Linked DNA regions of Homo sapiens: all the other regions are linked to region 1. Evidence: fine-mapped expression QTL. A gene starts in region 1. Each other region holds a variant in brackets. All regions are shown on one strand. Distances are between the middles of the regions. Region 1 holds the start of CCR2 (C-C motif chemokine receptor 2). Region 2 holds the start of CCR1 (C-C motif chemokine receptor 1). Region 3 overlaps CCR3 (C-C motif chemokine receptor 3). Region 4 has its middle 41 kb from the start of CCR2.

The links.
Region 2: its variant is fine-mapped to the expression of CCR2 in whole blood (TOPMed, PIP above 0.99). The same link has a PIP of 0.9 or more in blood mononuclear cells and monocytes.
Region 3: its variant is fine-mapped to the expression of CCR2 in monocytes after LPS (Quach 2016, PIP 0.95).
Region 4: its variant is fine-mapped to the expression of CCR2 in whole blood (INTERVAL, PIP above 0.99). The same link has a PIP of 0.9 or more in sun-exposed skin.

Annotation. Positions count from the first base shown.
Region 1 is chr3:46,351,566-46,356,768 of GRCh38, reverse strand. CCR2 (C-C motif chemokine receptor 2) reads right to left here and starts at 2,658. Exons shown (of 2, transcript NM_001123396.4): 1 at 2,592-2,658.
Region 2 is chr3:46,206,522-46,211,521 of GRCh38, reverse strand. It overlaps CCR1 (C-C motif chemokine receptor 1), which reads left to right and starts at 3,209. Exons shown (of 2, transcript NM_001295.3): 1 at 3,209-3,240. It also overlaps a transcript of CCR3 not described here. The variant GAAC/C (reference allele first, on the strand shown) is at 3,067.
Region 3 is chr3:46,247,088-46,252,290 of GRCh38, reverse strand. The region is part of intron 1 of CCR3 (C-C motif chemokine receptor 3); the gene reads right to left. Among named protein-coding and RNA genes, the nearest start is that of CCR3, 7.2 kb to the right of the region's middle. The variant G/A (reference allele first, on the strand shown) is at 3,015.
Region 4 is chr3:46,310,220-46,315,422 of GRCh38, reverse strand. It overlaps the pseudogene UQCRC2P1. Among named protein-coding and RNA genes, the nearest start is that of CCR2, 41 kb to the left of the region's middle. The variant A/G (reference allele first, on the strand shown) is at 2,075.

The sequences.
Region 1 (5,203 bases):
TTTTTGTATTTTTAGTAGAGATGGGGATTCACCATGTTGGCCAGGATGGTCTCGGTCTCTTGACCTCCTGATGCACCCGCCTTGGCCTCTCAAATTGCTGGGAGAAAAACAAGCCCCTGTTTTAAAGCCATTATGAACTGCATTTTCTGTTCTCTGAAGTCAAAAACGTTCTAACTGATGATTCTCTCAGCTTTCTGCCTCCATCATCCTGCCAAAACTTCTCTTGTTAAGATTGCAGTGACAACCCAATTTTTCAAATGCCCTGGTTTTATTCCAATTCCACCCTCTTCAAGTATTTGATCCTTCTGCTAACTTCCTCCATTTACAATTCTTTTTGGCTTCCAGATGGGAGGGGCTGTGCTACCGCTTTTTATTCATGTTCTTTGCTGGCATCTCCTCCCCGTGCCCACACCTTAAGATTCCCCAGGCACCACACTTAGCTCTCACCTCTTTAATTTTTTGCCTCTTTATCCTTGCTACAAAGTTCTTCCTGAATTGTATTGTCTAAACTCATGGTTCCTACTCCCTTCTATGCTACTGTTTTCTAAAGCTCTGTCTTCAAGCTCCAGCTTTCCCCTAAGCCTTAGAGTTGAATTTCCCATTGCCTGATGCATATCTCCCCATGCATGTATTCACTGCATCAACACTTATTGAACACCTACTATGAACCATACTCAGTTTTAGGCACTGAAGTGAGCAAAGTGGGTATCATGCAGGGACCTCAAATTCAACCCACCCCAAATGGGGCACTGCTGAAAACTCCTTCCGATTGTGGATTCCTCCATTGCCTAAGAAGCAAAATTGGGCATTGCCCTGGGTTGCTTCTCCTTCTGAAAATTAGGAGCCAGTTTTTGGAGCCAAACAAACCTGGATTTGAATCCTTATAGGCAGTGTAATCTGGGGCCAATTACTCCTTCAAGTGCCGATTTCTTTATGCATAAAATATTAACTATGCTGAGTTGCTGTGAAGATCAATGGAGTAAGGACTTAGGACAGCATCTGACACAGAGAAATGCCCTGTATTATTATCATGTCATTTGAGTTCCACCTCATAGATGCCTCTCAGATTCATCCCCTCTGCACTGCTTTCAACTGTCACTTTCTTGCTTCACACACTCCTCACTCCTGGCTTTGTTGTAGTCTTTCCTTTGCTCATGGCTCATCTCAAGCCATGTTCCCTCTCAACCTATCTTCTCTTAAGTTGAAATTGAATAGTCACTCTTAGCTTAAAACCTCCAGTAGCCCTATGACTTATATGTGGTGGGCTTCAAAGATAATGTCCAGACTGCCCAGCACAACATCTTTTCTGAGTTTGCCTCTTTTCAGCCTCACCTCCAGTCCCTTCTCCAATCCCAAATCCTGTGCTTCAGTCACAGCCATCTTCTCTTCATTTTCCCTAAACTCACCATTTCCTTCATGCTTCAGTGGTTTTGCAGGTCCTTGCCCCTCTGCCCAAAATGATTGGTGAGCTTCTATTCACCCTTCAATACCTCCTGCTCAAATCCCCCTTCTCTGTGAAGCCTAATCTGTATCCTCTGTCATATTACTCTTATCACATAACACTGCATGCATCTAGATAAGCACTTATTATGTTATCTGCTACACACAGCATGTTCCTCAAGATCAAGGACTGGATTATGCTTCTATTTTCAGCTCTTATGATAGTACCTGGCTAAAGGAGGCACCAATAAATGTTCACTGAATGAGTACATAAAACTCTTTATAATAAGAACTATAAGCCCTAACATCATCAGGACTTGATTCTCAAGAATTTTTTTTCTGGCAGTGACTGTGAATTTCTTTTCCACCCACCTGTATACTTTATCCTTCCATTTCTCTTGCAATTGACACTTTTCACAAGTCTTGTATTTCATATCACTGAGCCAGATTCTTGAAATCTGGAGAAGCTAAATAAGACCTCTGATCAAAGTTGGAAAAAAATGCATCTGCCTAAAGAATCACAACTGTGGTCATTAATTGAGTGCTCCTGAAGCTCAGATGCTATGTTAAATGCTGTGCACACATTACTTAATTTCATTTTTACAACTGGCTAGCATGTAGCTTCTACTACAGTGAACAATGAGCAAGATGCCTGAAATGTGCTGTCCTAGGTGTCATTTCAAGTGTCAGAACATGTCACCCAGAACTGATAGAAATCTATCTTTCAGAAAATAAATTCCTTACTTCTGCCTCTGTGGATCTCCTGAGTTGAGGCAAGGGACACATTTTGGTTCAGAGCTTGGATGGTCCTATATTTAGACTAACAGTTCCAGCTCTTTAACGTCCTTGGGTGCTCAGAGGGGCAGAGTGAGCCCCTGGGTGTGTGGACTGGTGACTGAGCAGAGTGGCTGTCCTGGCCTCGCTTGCTGCCCACTCTCCCCCATCACCTGCTGCACGCTGCTCTTCCTCAGGGTTTCTCTAACATCTCCTGGTGCACATGCCATCCCCACCCCTGCCTCTCATCTTGATCATTCCCCCCAAGTGTGCAGGCTTTGCAGTTCCCCAGGGTGTACCCAGACCCGGCATTTCCAGCTTTGAGGTGCGTTGAGCCTATGAATCAGAAAGTAATGGAAAAAATGCCTACAACTCACCAGCTTGTGGCTTGTCTCAGGCAGTCCTGGTATGTCAGGCTTCTCAGCAACTGAACCAAACAGATCTAGAGGTAGAAACTTGGCATGCAGAAGTAGGAAATAAAGTTTCCTGCAGAAAGTGAAGGCGGAGATACAGGGCAACTAATGGTAAAGATTTGAAAAAAAAAATCAGAAAAATATAGTTCTTCTTTTCCAGTCAGGAACATTGTACATTGGGTTGAGGTCTCCAGAATAGGATTAATTTTGAAATCTTGCTTATGCAACCTTGAGTGTGAGTCAGGCAAACCCTGTACATCTGCTCCTGTTTCTAACGACTCTGAGCTTCTTTATCTTGTGGGTCTTTATACCTGGAACATTTCCACTCTCTGCTCTCCTACTAGTGATAATTTGCATGATATGAGCACAACAGAATGTTTCATGTTCCAGAGAATAAAGGGTATTGGTGATAGTGGAGGAAGTATAATGAGGTTTTACTGCGATCATGTGTGCTGGTTTCAGTGGTATCATGGATTCAGAATCTGGTTAGAAATTTCATTTAGATAAGACTTTAAAATTTTTTTTTATTTAATTCACATAATAATTGTATATATTTATGGGACACAATGTGATGTTTTGCTACATGTATACATTGTGCAATGATCAAATCAGGGTAATTACATATCCATCCTCTGAAACATTTATCATTTCTTTTGAAATAATAATGATATTGAAAACCCTCTCTTCTAGCTATTTATATATACAGAATTCATTATTAACTACCGTCACCCTACTTGGAGCAGAGCACCAGCACTTGTTTCTCCTATCTCATGGTAACTTTGTACCCGTTGATCAACTGCTGCCCATTCTCACCTCCTCTCTTTCCTCCCCAGTCTCTGGTAACCACTGCTCTACTGTCTTTTTCTAAGATAGCAACTTTTTTTTTTTTTTTAAATTGGGTTTCATTCTGTCACCCAGACCGGAGTGCACTGGCACAGTCTCAGCTCACTGCTACCTCCACCTTCTGAGTTCAAGCCATCCTCCCACCTCAGCCTCCTGAGTAGCTAGGATTACAGGTGTGTGCCATCATGCCCGGCTAAGCAACTTATTTAAAAAAAAATTCCACATAAGAGTGAGATCACGTGGTATTTGTCTATCTGTGTGTGGCTTATTTCACTTAACATCCTCTAGGTTCATCCACATTATCACAAATTACAGGATTTCAAACTTTTTAATGAAAAGGAAATGCTAAATTATCTCTTGTGTCAGGAACGTCCTTAGCAAGAAGAACCTCAGTTATTTTAAATGCCCCTCCTTGGAAAGACGTTTTGTTAAAAGATAATGTAAATTTTGCAATGGGGACATCAGACTAGGAGCATTCCTAAGATTGTGCAGAGAACATGGTGTCATCTAAGTTGGCCCCTGGCACTTTCTGGAATCCAGCAGACACCGGAGGCAGGATCTCATGCTGTGGACTTGGCAAGTTTCTAAGTTTCCATTTCCCAAATATGAAATATGAATAACAAGACTGGGGGTCTATGAGGGTAAATGGACCTAAAGCAGCTAGAGCAGGGTCTGGCAGGCACTCCACAGGTAACAAACAGAACAGAACAGTCTGAGCCCTGCAGAGTGCCAGAGGTTGAAGGATGCATCCACTGCTAGAGCCAACAACAATCAAATGCTCAGGGCAGTCCAGGTGTCCTTTCCAGATTTCAAGAAGTTGGCTTTTTTGCTGTTGTTGTTGTTGTTGTTGTTGTTGTGTTATGTTGTGTTTTTGCTTTCTTTTGCGACAAGATCTTGCTCTGTTGCCTAGGCTGGAGTGCGGTGGCATGATCATGCTTCACTGCAGTCTCAACCTCAAGCAATCCTCTCATCTCAGCCTCCCAAGTAGCTGAGACTACAGGTGCATGCCACCATGCCTGACTATTTTTTGTAGAGATGGGGTTTTGTCATGTTGCCCGGGCTGGTCTCGAACTCCTGGGCTCAGGCAATCTGCCTGCCTCAGCCTCCTGAAGGGCTGGGATTACAGGTGTGAGCTCCTACACCCAGCCCAGATTTCAGTCAGTTGTAACCATGTGTCCTGTGTAAGACCTGGTATATGTGCTAAGTAAGACCTGAGACTTGAAGGGTCTCAGGTTTTTTCTTGGAAGACAGCTCATTGCCTGTTCAGGAACATAGCAAGTTCCCCAGTTGTCTCTCAATGTGTCTCTGGGCCGGAATTGGAGCATATCTCTGAGATTTCAATAATAAGACAGGTCATCCCTGACCTGGTAACACTGAGCTTGCTGCCACTTCTGGAATCTCCTGACCCTGGCATCTTGCCACCTGTTCCTATGATTCAACCCAGGATGGGGAAGAGCAAGAGCCAGAAATTTTGCTCTGGCTGATTAGGACCGCTCTCCAATTTTGTCTTCACATTGTGATCTTTGTCTCCAGCCCTGTAATTTCATAAACAAGGAGAGGCACAGAGGTAGATAGTTGCAGAGCCAGGATTCAAACCTTTGGCTTATACTGACACAGAGGGCAGGATAACAGAGGGCACCCTCCGCTGAGATTTTGAAGAGACAGTATAGAATGAAAATATTTTTGGAGGGGTGAGCAGGCTTAAAAGAAGCAACAGGGATGGTGAGGTGGTC
Region 2 (5,000 bases), 150 kb after region 1:
GGTGGGATCACAGGTCACACCTGTAATCCCAGCACTTTGGGAGGCTGGGGCAAGAGGGTCACTAGAGCCCATGAGTTTGAGACCAACCTAGGCAACATGATAACACACCCATTTCTACAAAAAATATATATATATATATATACATATTTTTTCAAATTAGCCAGGTGTGGTGCCATGCACCTGTGGTTCCAGCTACTTAGGAGACTGAAGTGGGAGGATCACTTGAGCCCAGAAGGTTGAGGCTGCAGTGAGCCATGATCATGCTACTGCACCCCAGCCTGGGCGACAGAGCAAGACCTTGTCTAAAAAAAAAAAAAAAAAAAAGTAAATTCTCAGGCCCCATTCCAGACCTACTGAACTTAATCTCTGGAGATAAGTCCAGAAATCTGTTTTAACAAGCCCTCTGTAGATTCTGATGGATATTCAAATTCGAGAACCATTGCTTTAGGCCAGGGATTCTAGTTCTCAGATTTTTTAACATATTAAAATTCCAATGCCCAGGCTGCACCCTAGACCAAGTACATCAGAATATCTGGGGGTGGGCCTAGGAGTCAATTGTCCTTCAAGCTTCCATGTGACTCTAACATAGCGGAGGCAACACTGGTTTCACCTACCTTCTTCCAATTCTGGGATCCACCTCTTCCCAGCCTCAAATCTTGCTCAGGCTTTAGATGTGATAACCTGGAGATTGTTTTCTTGGAGTTCTTCCACAATGGCCTCTGGCTCCTCAGTTCCCCACCATCGCTGATTTGGAGAGAGTGTGTGGCCAGAAGACAAGGCCCAGCAGTTGAATATGAGGTTGAACCTGATGACGGCCAGGGTCCATGAGCTCTGCAGGTGTTAAAGACAGAGTCATCCACATCCACCACTGGCAGGGTCCCCTGCATCTCTTCCCTGAACATTGGTGCCAAGGCTGGGGTGGAAGGCTGTCTCAGGACAGGGTTTGGCTTAGTGCTGGGCTTCCACTGCAACCTCTCTGGGGCAAAGGAAGCTGCCCACATCTCCCCCTTCTCTCCAAGGAAGAGGAACATTGATGTGGATCAAGGACAATACGGCAACCTTGAGAGAACACTACAGCTTTTAAGGAGAGGAGTCAAAGGGCTTTTAAGAGAAATGAATGGAGCAAGGTCATCCCTCTTTGCTGGTTTCTCTCTTGTCTCTCTGTGCTGCCCCCATTGTACACATCTGCTGTGGTGAGAGGGGTGTGTGCACTAAGGGGTTTGCAAGGCCATAGGAGACCTGAGTGTGGGTGTGGGAGGGGAGACAGAGCAGGCAACTGAGCAGCCTCTTGTTTAGGCCTTGAGCTAAAGAGAGAAAGAAGGCTTCCTAGCTCATAGCTGGTCCAGCCTAACTCTTCTGAAGAAAGATCACATGGGACTCTGAGCCAAAAGCATTGAGAAAATCTAGATCCATGCCCCCCAAATTTAAGCATGCATCAGAATCATGCCAGTCTTTGTCAAAACCTGGATTGCTTGGCCGCATCCCCAGGATTTCTGAGTCAGTATATCTGGCATGTAACCCCAGAACTTGCATGGCTAGCAATGTCCCAGGGAATGTGAATGCTGCTGGTCCAGGGACCTCACTTTGAGAACCACTGCTCTAAAGGACTTCCTCACCCCTTCCCACCCTCGATGCACCCTTCCTTAGCCCAGGGTATTTCCCAGGCCACTACAAAAGCTGTTCCTCATTGTGGTAACTTGGTTAATTGTTTGTGATCCTTCCTAAGCTATAAGCTCTCAAAGAATGGATCCAGCCTCTTTCTTCACCACTATATCCCAAGCACCTAACACAATGTCCGGCACATTGTGAGTACTGAATAAATATTTGTTCAATGAACAAGCAGATTTGCCTGGTACATCCCCTCTGTGGAATGAAACCTAGAGCAGAGCTGGAAGCCTGGTCAAGGATGAGGTACTGACCATGTCCCTTACTTTAGACAGGATCAAGGAAAAGGCAGGCCTCACAAGCCTCTGTTCTCTTTGGAAACTGATCCACCAGCAAAGTACTGCAAATAGCCAGGCACATGCAGACCCCCATTTATTTCTTTGGGGTGAAGCTGAGTGATGATCAGATGTCAAGCTTAGGCCATCTTGTCTGAATTCTTCATTTTACAGATAAGAAAACTGAACCATGAAGAGACAAGTGATCTTTTCAAAGCACATTCACACTGATGATTTCTGAAACAGTGCTTTGTAGCAATGCCGTGAGGAAGGTTAGGGGTGTCCCCACTTTATAGAAGACACAAGGGCAGAGGCAGAGTAGGTGTTGGCAGTTGTGAGGAGAGTCACAGTACTCATCATTTGTCAGACATTTTTCACTGTGCCAGGCACTCTGACATTTTTCATGTACAAGTTGACTTCGTGCTTCTCCTCTGAGGTAAGCATTCAATACTCCCATTTAGCAGAGTAGGAACCAAGACTTAGAAAGGTGAGTGATCTGCCCATGTCACAGGTGGAGAGCTGGGATTTGAACTTGGCCCATGTTTGACCATCACGTAAAACAGGAATGGGGCATCAGAAAGGGAAGGTCAAAATGTAACCAACAGACCTATATTCCCTTCATGCTGGAGGTTCCTGGGGCAAAGCCACTCTCTGAGGTTTGGTGGGGAGGGACTTGGGGAGCAGAGAGCAGAGGGACAATGAGCTCCCAGAAGCCGAGGGGCATAGGGTGCCAAAGAGAAGCTGCTGCCTCTGTGAGCACCCATGTCAGTTAGTTTTGAGGAACAGGACTCAGGGTTCCAGTTTAAATCCTTCCATTCACAATCTTTAAGAAGAAGAAAAAAAAGAAGTCTGCCGCTGACCACAAGAGCTCTATGCCCTGCCCCCATCCCACATACACACATCCCACACTTCAATTGCTCCAAACATTCTGGGAACATCTCACTGCCACCCACCTCACCCAACTCAGCTTCACCTGCCCCCAATTCCCTTAAGGCTGAGCTCCCAGGGCCAAGACTCAAGAGGCTCAGAGTGAGCAGAGAAAATCCTCGCAGTTAACTTGGCTTCCAGGAAGTGGCCACTGGTGGGCGTTGTGGCCATTCATGAGCACCAAACCACACAAAAAGAA[GAAC/C]TTTGTCCCTTTCTTGTCATTTTGAAAGACTGTGAAACTGGAGCCAATTCTCCATCATCACACAGGAAGCTGAGTACTTCCTACTTGGTCAGGATCTTGAAACTTGAATTCATAAAAACCCAGAAAGCCCCAGAAACAAAGACTTCACGGACAAAGTCCCTTGGAACCAGAGTAAGTGTCACTTGTCTTTTCTGTCTTATCTGTTACTGTGGAGGGCAGTGTTGTTCAAAGACATGCATGCAGCTAGGGGCTCCTCAAAGGTAGGGGGAATTCTTTGAGTAGGCTGGGCAAATGTCTAAGTAGCCCATGGATGCATCTCCAAGGCAATTAATACTGTAGCAATACTGAGAATGGTGGATTTATAAAGCTGGGTGCTCAGATGAAATATAGGCTTTTTTGCTAAAAAGGAAGCTTACTTGAAGGATTGGCTTTTGGTTACTGATTAAGAAAGTCAGTCAGTACTAAGGGACAAAAGGTGTTTTCTGTGGAAACCTATTCAATAAGAAATTACTTGGCGGGGCGCAGTGGCTCACGGCTGTAATCCCAGCACTTTGGGAGACCGAGGCAGGTGGATCATGAGGTCAAGAGATGGAGACAATCCTGGCCATATGGTGAAACCCTGTCTCTACTAAAAATAAAAATTAGCCGGGCATGGTGGCGCATGCCTGTAGTCCCAGCTACTCAAGAGGCTGAGGCAGGAGAATCACTCGAATCCGGGAGGTGGAGGTTGCAGTGAGCTGAGATTGCACCACTACACTCCAGCCTGGCGACAGAGCAAGAGTCTGTCTGAAAAAAAAAAAAAAATTGCTTGCCAAATTCCCCCATGTAAAGGAAAACCAAACATGGTGTATGAAGAAATTATAGCAAGAGGGAAATATTAGCTAGAAAAATCTTGGCAGATGCAAGGATGATTTGATACTGAACCTATCTCTTAAGAAGACTAGAACCAAGGATCCTCAAAATTGGCACTGCTATCTTTGGAAGAGGTAGGCTTTCACTCACCCAAAGGCAAGGAGCTGGCCAGGTGATCTTGGGGGGCATCTGTTCTGCTCTACTAACAAAGACACAGGTCAGGATTTTGTTCTGAAGATAGAGGGGCATGGTGGCTCCGTATAGGTATCTACTTCATAGGTGGTCTTGGTGGGTCCCAGATTTCAAAGAAGAGATGGAAACTCCCAAAAGTTTGCACAACCTGGCACCAGGCTATGTGCCACTCACTGATCCTTTAGTTCCCGCACCGAGCAGTGGGACAGTGCTGGACTGTTCAGAATGTGGGGCCTGGGCAGTGATGTGCTGGTAAATGTTCAACAACTGACTCTTCTGAAGAAAAGATCCCTGCTTTATAACATTTGTTGATTTTCATGGTATAAATGCCCCCACTGTGGTCAGTTTCAAGCTACCAACATGCTGAATGTGGAGTGGGGAAGAGATGCACGCAATTGGCATTTATAAACCAGTATAAGCCAGCCAGCGCACCATAGGCCTGGGTGTCTTTCACCATCACAGACTGCTCTATCTCTGCTCAGAGACTTCACCAACTCCCAGGCTGGAGGACACTAGCAGTGGAGGGTCCAGGATCCAGGGCTATAGCTGACCACTGTGCAGTGGCCTTGAGGCAGACTTCTGCAGTAGACTACAGCAGGGCTGGCAGATTAGATGACAACATGGTCCTTTGGTTTCTCTTCTCGGGCCCCACCCCAGATCACCTCCCTTTAGGAACAGCATGCCTTGGAGTGGTTGCCTGGGGCTTAACAAGTTGGGGAAATAACAAATGGGTTGGAGGTAGGGGGTGTATGGAGGTGACTCGGTTTAAAATGCCACCTGACAATGTTGACTCAACTTGCCTTTGCCTTTGCCAAACCTTCCCAGAAACTGGACTCATGGGATCAGGCTTGCACTAGCTGCTCTTTGTGCTTTCCAAGCTATTTGCA
Region 3 (5,203 bases), 100 kb after region 1:
GGCAGGAGAATCTCTTGAGCCTGGGATGCGGAGTTTGCTGTGAGCTGAGATCGTGCCACTCCACTCCAGTCTGGGAGACAGAGTAAGACCCTGTCTCAAAAAAAAAAAAAAAAAAAAAAAAGACAGAAACTAGCCTCATGGCTATTGAGCACTTGAAATGTGGCTACTGCAATTGAGAAACTGAACTTTTCATTTTATTTAATTTAAATAACCACATGTAGAAAGTGTCAGGCCTCTGAGCCCAAGCCAAGCCATTGCATCCCCTGTGACTTGCACATATATGCCCAGATGTCCTGAAGTAACTGAAGAATCACAAAAGAAGTGAATATGCCCTGCCCCACCTTAACTGATGACACTCCACCACAAAAGAAGTGTAAATGGCTGGTCCTTGCCTTAAGTGATGACATTACCTTGTGAAAGTCCTTTTCCTAGCTCATCCTGGCTAGGTGATTTTAAATCACCCCCACTGAGCACCTTGTGACCCCCACTCCTGCCTGCCAGAGAACAAACCCCCTTTGACTGCAATTTTCCTTTACCTACCCAAATCCTATAAAACAGCCCCACCCTTATCTCCCTTTGCTGACTCTCTTTTCGGACTCAGCCCGCCTGCACTCAGGTGAAATAAACAGCCATGTTGCTCACACAAAGCCTGTTTGGTGGTCTCTTCACAAGGATGCACATGAAATTTGGTGCCGTGACTCGGATTGTGGGACCTCCCTTGGGAGATCAATCCCCTGTCCTCCTGTTCTTTGCTCCGTGAGAAAGATCCACCTACGACCTCAGGTCCTCAGACCGACCAGCCCAAGAAACATCTCACCAACTTCAAATCCAGTAAGCGGCCTCTTTTTACTCTCTTCTCCAACCTCCCTCACTATCCCTCAACCTCTTTCTCCTTTCAATCTTGGCGCCACACTTCAATCTCTCCCTTCTCTTAATTTCAATTCCTTTCATTTTCTGGTAGAGACAAAGGAGACACCTTTTATCCATGGACCCAAAACTCCGGCGCCGGTCACAGACTGGGAAGGCAGCCTTCCCTTGGTGTTTAATCATTGCAGGGACGCCTCTCTGATTATTCACCCACGTTTCAAGGGTGTCAGACCACGCAGGGACGCCTGCCTTGGTCCTTCACCCTTAGCAGCAAGTCCCACTTTTCTGGGAAAGGGGCAAGTACCTCAACCCCTTCTCTCCATGTCTCTACCCCTTCTCTGCTTTTCTGGGGGAGGGGCAAGTACCCCTCAACCCCTTCTCCTTCACTCTTAGTGGCAAGTCCCACTTTTCTAGGGGGCAAGAACCCCCAATCCCTTATTTCTGCACCCCAACCTCTTATCTCTGCACCCCAATCCCTTATTTCCTCACCCTGACCTCTTATCTCTGTGCCCCAATCCCTTATTTCCGCACCCAGACCTCTTATCTCTGTGCCCCAATCCCTTATTTCCATGCCCCAACCCCCCTTCCCGCTTTTCTGGAGGGTAAGAACCCCTGAACCCCTTCCCTCCATGTCTCTACTCTCTCTTTTCTCTGGGTTTGCCTCCTTCACTATAGGCAAAATTCCACCCTCCATTCCTCCTTCTTCTCCTTTAGCCTGTGTCCTCAAGAACTTAAAACCTCAACTTACACCTGTCCTAAAACCTAAACGCCTTATTTTCTTCTGCAACACTGCTTGGCTCCAATACAAACTTGACAATGGCTCTAAATGGCCAGAAAATGGCACTTTCGATTTCTCCATCCTACAAGATCTAAATAATTCTTGTCTTAAAATAGGCAAATGGTCTGAGGTGCCTGATGTCCAGGCATTCTTTTACACATCAGTCCCTTCCTAGTCTCTGTGCCCAGTGCAACTTGTCCCAAATCTTCCTTGTTTCCCTCCCGCCTGTCCCCTCAGTCCCAACCCCAAGCATCGCTGAGTCTTTCTAATCTTCCTTTTCTACAGACCCATCTGACCTCTCCCCTCCTTGCCAGGCCAAGCTAGGTCCCAATTCTTCCTCAGCCTCCACTCCTCCACCCTGTAATCTTTTTATCGCCTCACCTCCTCACACCTGGTCCGGCTTACAGTTTCGTTCCATCACTAGCCCTTCCCCACCTGCCCAGCAATTTACTCTTAAAAAGGTGCCTGGAGCCAAAGGCATAGTCAAGGTTAATGCTCCTTTTTCTTTATCCCAAATCAGAAGCGTTTAGGCTCTTTTTCATCAAATATAAAAACCCAGCCCAGTTCATGGCTCATTCGGCAGCAACCCTGAGACGCTTTACAGCCCTAGACCCTAAAAGGTCAAAAGGCCATCTTATTCTCAATATACATTTTATTACCCAATCTGCTCCCGACATTAAATAAAACTCCAAAAATTAGAATCTGGCCCTCACACCCCACAACAGGACTTAATTAACCTCACCTTCAAGGTGTACAATGATAAAAAAAAAAAGTTGCAATTCCCTGCCTCCACTGTGAGACAAACCCCAGCCACATCCCCAGCACACAAGAACTTCCAAACACCTGAACCGCAGTGGCCAGGCGTTCCTCCAGAACCTCCTCCCCGAGGAGCTTGCTACAAGTGCCAGAAATCTGACCACCAGGCCAAGGAATGCCTGCAGCCCAGGATTCCCCCATCTGTGTGGGACCCCACTGGAAATCAGACTGTTCAACTCACCTGGCAGCCACTCCCAGAGCCCCTGGAACTCTGGCCCAAGGCTCTCTGACTGACTCCTTCTTGGCTTAGCGGCTGAAGACTGACACAGCCTGATCGCCTCGGAAGCCCCATAGACCATCACAGATGCCGAGCTTTAGGTAACTCTCACAGTGGAGGGTAAGTCCATCCCCTTCTTAATCAATACAGAGGCTACCCACTCCACATTACCTTCTTTTCAAGAGCCTGTTTCCCTTGCCTCCATAACTGTTGTGGGTATTGATGCCCAGGCTTCTAAACCTCTTAAAACTCCCCAACTCTGGTGCCAACTTAGACAATACTCTTTTATGCACTCTTTTTTAGTTATCCCCACCTGCCCAGTTCCCTTATTAGGCC[G/A]AGATATTTTAACCAAATTATCTGCTTCCCTGACTATTCCTGGACTATAGCCGCATCTCATTGCTGCCCTTCTTCCCAATCCAAAGCCTCCTTTGCGTCCTCTTCTTGTATTCCCCCACCTTAACCCACAAGTATAAGATACCTCTACTCCCTCCTTGGCGACCAATCATGCTCCCCTTACCATCTCGTTAAAACCTAATCACCCTTACCCTGCTCAATGCCAAGATCCCATCCCACAGCACGCTTTAAAAGGATTAAAGCCTGTTATCACTCGCCTGCTAAGGCATGGCCTTTTAAAGCCTATAAACTCTCCTTACCATTCCCCCATTTTACCTGTCCTAAAACCAGACAAGCCTTACAAGTTAGTTCAGAATCTGCACCTTATCAACCAAATTGTTTTGCCTATCCACCCCGTGGGGCCAAACCCATATAACCTCCTATCCTCAATACCTCCCTCTACTACCCATTATTCTGTTCTGGATCTCAAACATGCTTTCTTTACTATTCCTTTGCACCCTTCATCCCAGCCTCTCTTTGCTTTCACTTAGACTGACCCTGACACCCATTAGGCTCAGCAAATTACCTGGGCTGTACTGCCACAAGGTTTCACAGACAGCCCCCATTACTTCAGTCAAGCCCAAATTTCATCGTCATCTGTTACCTATCTCGGCATAATTCTCATAAAAACACACGTGCTCTCCCTGCTGATCCTGTCCGATTAATCTCCCAAACCTCAATCCCTTACAAAACAACAACTCCTTTCCTTCCTAGGCATGGTTAGTGCAGTCAGAATTCTTACACAAGAGCCAGGACTGCACCCTGTAGCCTTTCTGTCCAAACAACTTGATCTTACTGTTTTAGCCTAGCCCTCATGTCTGCATGCAGCAGCTGCCACTGCTTTAATACTTTTAGAGGCCCTAAAAATCACAAACTATGCTCAACTCACTCTCTACATTTCTCATAACTTCCAAAATCTATTTTCTTCCTCATACCTGATGCATATACTTTCTGCTCCTTGGCTCCTTCAGCTGTACTCACTCTTTGTTAAGTCTCCCACAATTACCATCATTCCTGGCCCGGACTTCAGTCCAGCCTCCCACATTATTCCAGAAACCACACCTGACCCTCATGACTGTATCTCTCTGATCCACCTGACATTCACCCCATTTCCCCATATCTCCTTCTTTCCTGTTCCTCACCCTGATCATGCTTGATTTATTGATGGCAGTTCCACCAGGCCTAATCACCACACACCAGCAAAGGCAGGCTATGCTATAGTACAAGCCACTAGCCTGCCTCTTAGAACCTCTCATTTCCTTTCCATTGTAGAAATCTATCCTCAAGGAAATCACTTCTCAGTGTTCCATCTGCTATTCTATGTGCTATTCTACTACTCCTCAAGGATTATTCAGGCCCCCTCCCTTCCCTACACATCAAGCTCGAGGATTTGCCCCTGCCCAGGACTGGCAAATTAGCTTTACTCAACATGCCCTGAGTCACAAAAACTAAAATACCTCTTAGTCTAAGTAGACACTTTCACTAGATAGGTAGAGGCCTTTCCTACAGGGTCTGAGAAGGGCACCGCAGTCATTTCTTCCCTTCTGTCAGACATAATTCCTCAGTTTAGCCTTCCCACCTCTATACAGTCTGATAACAGACCAGCCTTTATTAGTCAAATCAGCCAAGCAGTTTTTCAGGCTCTTAGTATTCAGTGAAACCTTTATATCCCTTATAGTCCTCTGTCTTCAAGAAAAGTAGAACGGACTAAAGGTCTTTTAAAAACACACCTCACCAAGCTCAGCCACCAACTTAAAAAGAACTGGACAATACTTTCACCACTTTCCCTTCTCAGAAGTCAGACCTGTCCTCGGAATGCTATAAGGTACAGCCCATTTAAGTTCCTGTATAGATGCTCCTTTTCATTAGGCCCCCAGTCTCATTCCAGACACCGGACCACCTTAGACTGTGCCCCAAAAAAACTTGTCATCCCTACTATTTTCTATCTAGTCATACTCCTGTTCTCTGTTCTCAACTACTCATACATGCCCTGCTCTTGTTTACACTGCCAGTTTACACTGTTTTTTCAAGCCATCACAGCTGATATCTCCTCGTGCTATCCCCAAACCGCCGCTCTTAACTCTTGAAGTAAATAAATAATCTTTGCTGGCAGGACTATGCTGAATCTCCTT
Region 4 (5,203 bases), 41 kb after region 1:
CTGGCCTCAATTTTGTAATAGCTATAAGACTATTCAATTTGTGAGTATTTTAGGTGAGCTTTGGTTGTTTGTGTCTTTCAAGAAATTTGTTTTATCTAAGTTGCCTAATTTATAGTCATAAAATTATTCAAAGTATGCCCTTATACTTTTTATATCTGTAGGATCTGTAGTGATATTGCCTCTCTCATTCTTAATACTGGTAATTTGTGTCTTCTCTCTTTTTTACTTGATCAATCTGGCTAGAGTTTTATCAATTTTATAGATCTGCTTAAAGAATCAGCTGTTTGGTTTGATTTTTTTCTTTTGTTTTCTATTCATTGATTTCTGCTCTTATCTTTATAATTTCCTTTCTTCTGTTTACTTTGGCTTTAGCTTATCCTGCTTTTTCTATTTTCTTAAAGTAAAAGCTGAGGTCATTGATTTGAAACCTTTTTCATTTTTTAAGATAGGAATTTGGTGCTATCAATTTTCCTATAAGCATTTCTTTAGTCTTATCCCACAAATAGATTTCAATTTGGAGTGAAGTAAAAGCAAAACAAATGCAGAAATATATTATCTTGGAAAATCCTTAGGACAAAAATGGGAGATAGATCATCTGCCATTAAGTACAACACAGTCATTCAGGACCTTTGAAGTTGGTTATGTGGTTGGGTTGCTAGTAGGGACTAGGGTACAGTCAAACCTCTGGTCACAAAGCTGAATGGTAACTGTGGTTTCTGAGAAAGGGCACCTTTTCATAATTTGCCTGAAAGGATCCTACAGCTGCTCTGTCAATGTTTGTTTTCATTATTGGAAAAGATCACTTCTGTTTTGTTTTTTGTTCAGCTTAAGAAGTGATTGGCTCACTTTGAGGAACCTTATAAGAAAAAAAACAGATATCTTTATGTTGAAGTTTTCTTATCAGATGAGGCTGGATAATAATCTGTGGCCTGTCAAATGTTGTAAATATTTTCTTGTAATCTACCTTGCTTAACAAGTTGCCTATATATTTTTTTCTAGGAAAGGTGAAAAAAAAACAAAGAAAGATTGCTTATATTTTTAACTTATTTTTATCATATTTGTCTTCATTTATTCATTTATTACTTCTGTGTTTTGCTTAGTAAGACCTTTTCTATTTCAAAGGAATAAAAATATTCTTCTTTTTTTTCTAGTAGTTTTAGAATTTTATTTTTTACATTTAAATATTTCATCTGTCTGGAATCTATTTTTTGCATATGATACAAAGTAGGAGTTTCACTTTATTTCTCACCAATGTATAACCAATTTTACCCAACACCATTTATTGAATAACCCATCTTTTCCCAACTGATTTGAAGGACCATCTTCATTATACGCAAAGCACCTATAAATATATGAGTTTCCTGTGACTATCTGTCTTATTTTGTTCACTTGCTTGCTCATTTCTGCCCTCATGTTAATTACTATTGCTTTATAATACATTGTGGTATCTGGAAGGATGAGATTTTATTCTCTTTCTTTTTCAAATATTGTTTGGTCCCTCACATTTTATTTTCCACGTAAACTTGGAATCACTTTGTCTAGTTTTTTAAAATCCTGTTGAATTGCATTGAGTTTATAATTTAACCTGAGGAGAATGAATATCTTTACGATAGCAGTCTTTCTATCCAGGAACATGGTAGGATGCTACATTTATTCAAGTCCTTTTTTATGTGATTCTGTTATTTAACTAATTAGATTTCATTCCCAACTTTGTGCTAATTGCCATTTCAATAAGGCACATCTTTAGCATCCTTATTCAAGTAACTTATAAATCATTGACTGGAAAATAGTTTGATATAATGCATTACAGCTTACTACTAAAGACTGTCTTTGAGAGTAAAATTAACTCATTAGTCAACTATCCTTGGATACTGCTGTTAAACTAGTCTTCATTTCTAATTTAGCCTAGCCATCCCACAGGATTCAATCCAATCCTATCCAGCCCAATTCAATCCAATTAAATGGACCTCTCATTACTTGAGTTCCACATGCTAAGGTATGTATAGGCAGCAGAGAGTCTGCCAAATATCTTGTTGTCAATCAGCTTCATCAGGCATTCCTGGAATTATCTATC[A/G]AGTAATTTTGTTGACAAAGGGAAATGTGGTTGGTGTGGCATGAACTGTTTTTAGTGGATATGTGCTGTCCTATAATGTAAGAATTGGTTGCTCTGCTGGAGGAGTATGGTGGCACTAGGCCAAGGGATTAAGCAACAACAAAACTAGGGATGGGCAAGTGTAGTAAAACTGGGAAGTTGTTGCCTAAGCATGCATGAGAAGAAGTTAACCAGAAGCTCATTGGCATTGTAGACAGACAGCAGGGAGATTCAGTCAGTGACTGGGGGTGGAAATGAACAAGCAATATTCAAGAAGTTCACAAACTTTGGACATTGAGTTTAGTAGAATGTGTAAGTGTTTGTTTCGTAAGTCTCTTACGGTCTAGCCAGAGGAAAAGGACATAAAAAATAAACAGGAACTTCCAGGAAGATAGAGTAGAAGTATTTTTCCATATTTCTCCTATTAAATATGACTAAATCCCTGATCTAAAACAAATAAGAAAACTCCAAAAGGTGGAGCAGATTAGCTAGAGACGTTGGGACCCAAGAAACCATACGGTAGTAACATCACTGGATTTTCTCTGTGTCTCACACATCCCAGACTGTGCTGGAGAAGCTAGGAACCTGGAAATACAACAGGTAAACACAAAAAAATACTTCCAACAAAAGTCTGCTCTTTCTAACCAAAGGGCTAGAAAGACAGAAAACTTTTGGACCTCAAATACTCCACTCTAGCCAAGCAGTACAGAGACAGCTATGGCCCCACACCCACCCATGCTGCTAAAGGCCCATTGGGAGCAAGACTTCCACCCTCGACAGGCTATATTGAGGCCTTCAAATCTCTCTTCACTCCTGTAGCAGGCTGGTATCAGCGAAGGCCAGGTAGGGAGCTGGGGCTTTCATCCCTATCAGGCAGTAATGTGGCCCGCTTCCTCCTCCCTGTAGCATCAGTGGGACAATGTGGCAAGTCTGGACTTCAGCTCCCACCTACCAGTAACAAAGCTTCCTTCCCACTCCCTACTCGGGTTGTTTTAGAGCAGGAGGGCTAGTGGAGAGGCAGGACATTTGCCACCACCCAAAAGTAATGTAGTATCAGTGGAGGCTTCATGGGAATAGTAGCAAGCCACCAGGACAGTATTAGCAGAAACTTAGTGGGGGGACTCCCACCCTCACCAGCAGTAACAGGAGCCTCTCCCCACTTTGGGTATCAATGGAGACCAAGTGGATAATGGACTTCTACCCCTACCTGGCAGTAATGAGGCAGTGCCACCCCTTTCCCTGCCAGAGCAGTGTCAAAGGAAACGAGCTAAAATAGAGGTTTTAAATAAGAAATAGAAAATATAAAGAACTACATGGAAATTATAGAAAATACATTTAAAAACTTGCCGAATGGTCCTTTAAGCCAGAAGTTACTATGGGTCACGAACAATCTTGAGACTTTATTCCCTCTTTTTGAGACTTTATTCCCTCAAAGTTGCCCCCAAAGTTAAAGCCACAGCTACCCCCATAGGAGTGGCTCCACATCATCAGGACCTTGAGATCATCAAATTTCCAAATGGTTTTATGATTTCTCCTTTGGAAAACTATGCCCTGCATCAAGAATTGGTTTGTTCATTAAAGCAGGCAGTAGCTATGAGGACTCCAACAATTTAGTAACTTCTCATTTGCTGTGTCTTGCATCCAGTTTGACTACGAAAGGAGCTTCATTTTTCAAGATAGCCCATGACATTGAAGCAGCTGGTGGTAAATTAAGTGTAATTGCAACAAGAGAAAACATAGCTTACATCATGGAATGTCTGCAGAGTGATATTGATATTCTAATGGAGTTCCTGCTCAGTGTCGCCACAGCACCAGGATTTGGTCATTGGGAAGTAGATGCCTTCAGTCTCAGCTAAGGATAGACAGATCTGTGAATTTTCAGAATCCACAGGCACATGTCATTGAAAATTTGCATACTGAAGCTTATTGGGATGCCTTGGCTAATTCCTTGTATTGTCCTGGCTATAGGATTGGAAAAGTGACATGGGAAGAGTTACATTACTATGTTTAGAACCACTTCACAAGTGCAAGAATGGCTTGGTTGGACTTGGTGTGAGTCACCCTGTTCTAAAGCAAGTTGCTGAATAGTTTCTCAACAGGAGGGGTGGGTTTCTTTTGTCTGGTACAAAAGCCAAATACTCTGGAGGTGAAATTCAGGAACAAAATGGAGACAGTCTTGTCCATGCTTGCTCTTGTAGCAGAAAGTGCTGCCACAAGAAGGGCACAGCAAATGCATTTAGTGTTTTTCAGCATATCAAGAGGGACACCATATGTCAAGGGGCACAGTGATGCCACCAGCTATCTATAGCAGGCTATTGCCAAGGCAATTCACCAGCCACTTGCTATTTCTGTTTTTAATGCTAGTTACTCCAATTTTGGACTCTTCAGGATGTACATTGTCTTCCAGGCTGCAGCTGCTGGAGATGTTATCAAGGCTACCTATAACCAAGTGGAAATAATTGCTCAAGAAAAGCTTTTCAATGTCCAGGCTGCCAAGAACAAACTGAAAGCTGGATACCAAATATAAGTGAAGTCTTCCGAGGGTTTCATAGAAGAAGTCAGGCCCCAGGCTGTAGTTACTGGTTCTTACAAGCCAATATCACCAGTCCTTCAGTAGATTAGTTGGTTGGCTAGTGCTGTCATCATCAATTCTGCAAAGAAGTTTGCTTCTGGCTAGAAACAAACTTCTACTTGTTAATGGCAACAATTGGAACATACACCTTTGGTTGATGAGTTGTAATACAGAAGCACATATTATAGGAAAGGGCTGAACATTCTCTCAGCCCAGAGCCTCAAACACATGAAAGCCAGAAGTATCTAACATTTATCTTTGTGTGTTTTGTTTTTTTTTTTTTTTACAATGAGGTAAAATGCCTTAAAGCATAAATGTAGGCAATTATTCCCAGCTTACCTAAAGTCAATAAAACATTTTGCTTAAATGTTAGAAGAAAACTGACTGGATGGGTTCAAGAGCAGAATGGAGGAGACAGAGAAAAGAATCAGTGAACTGGAAGAATGAACAATAGAAATGACCTAATCTGAACAACAGACAGAAAATTTAAAAAAAAAATTATGGCCAGGCGTGGTGGCCCGCGCCTGTAATCCCAGCAC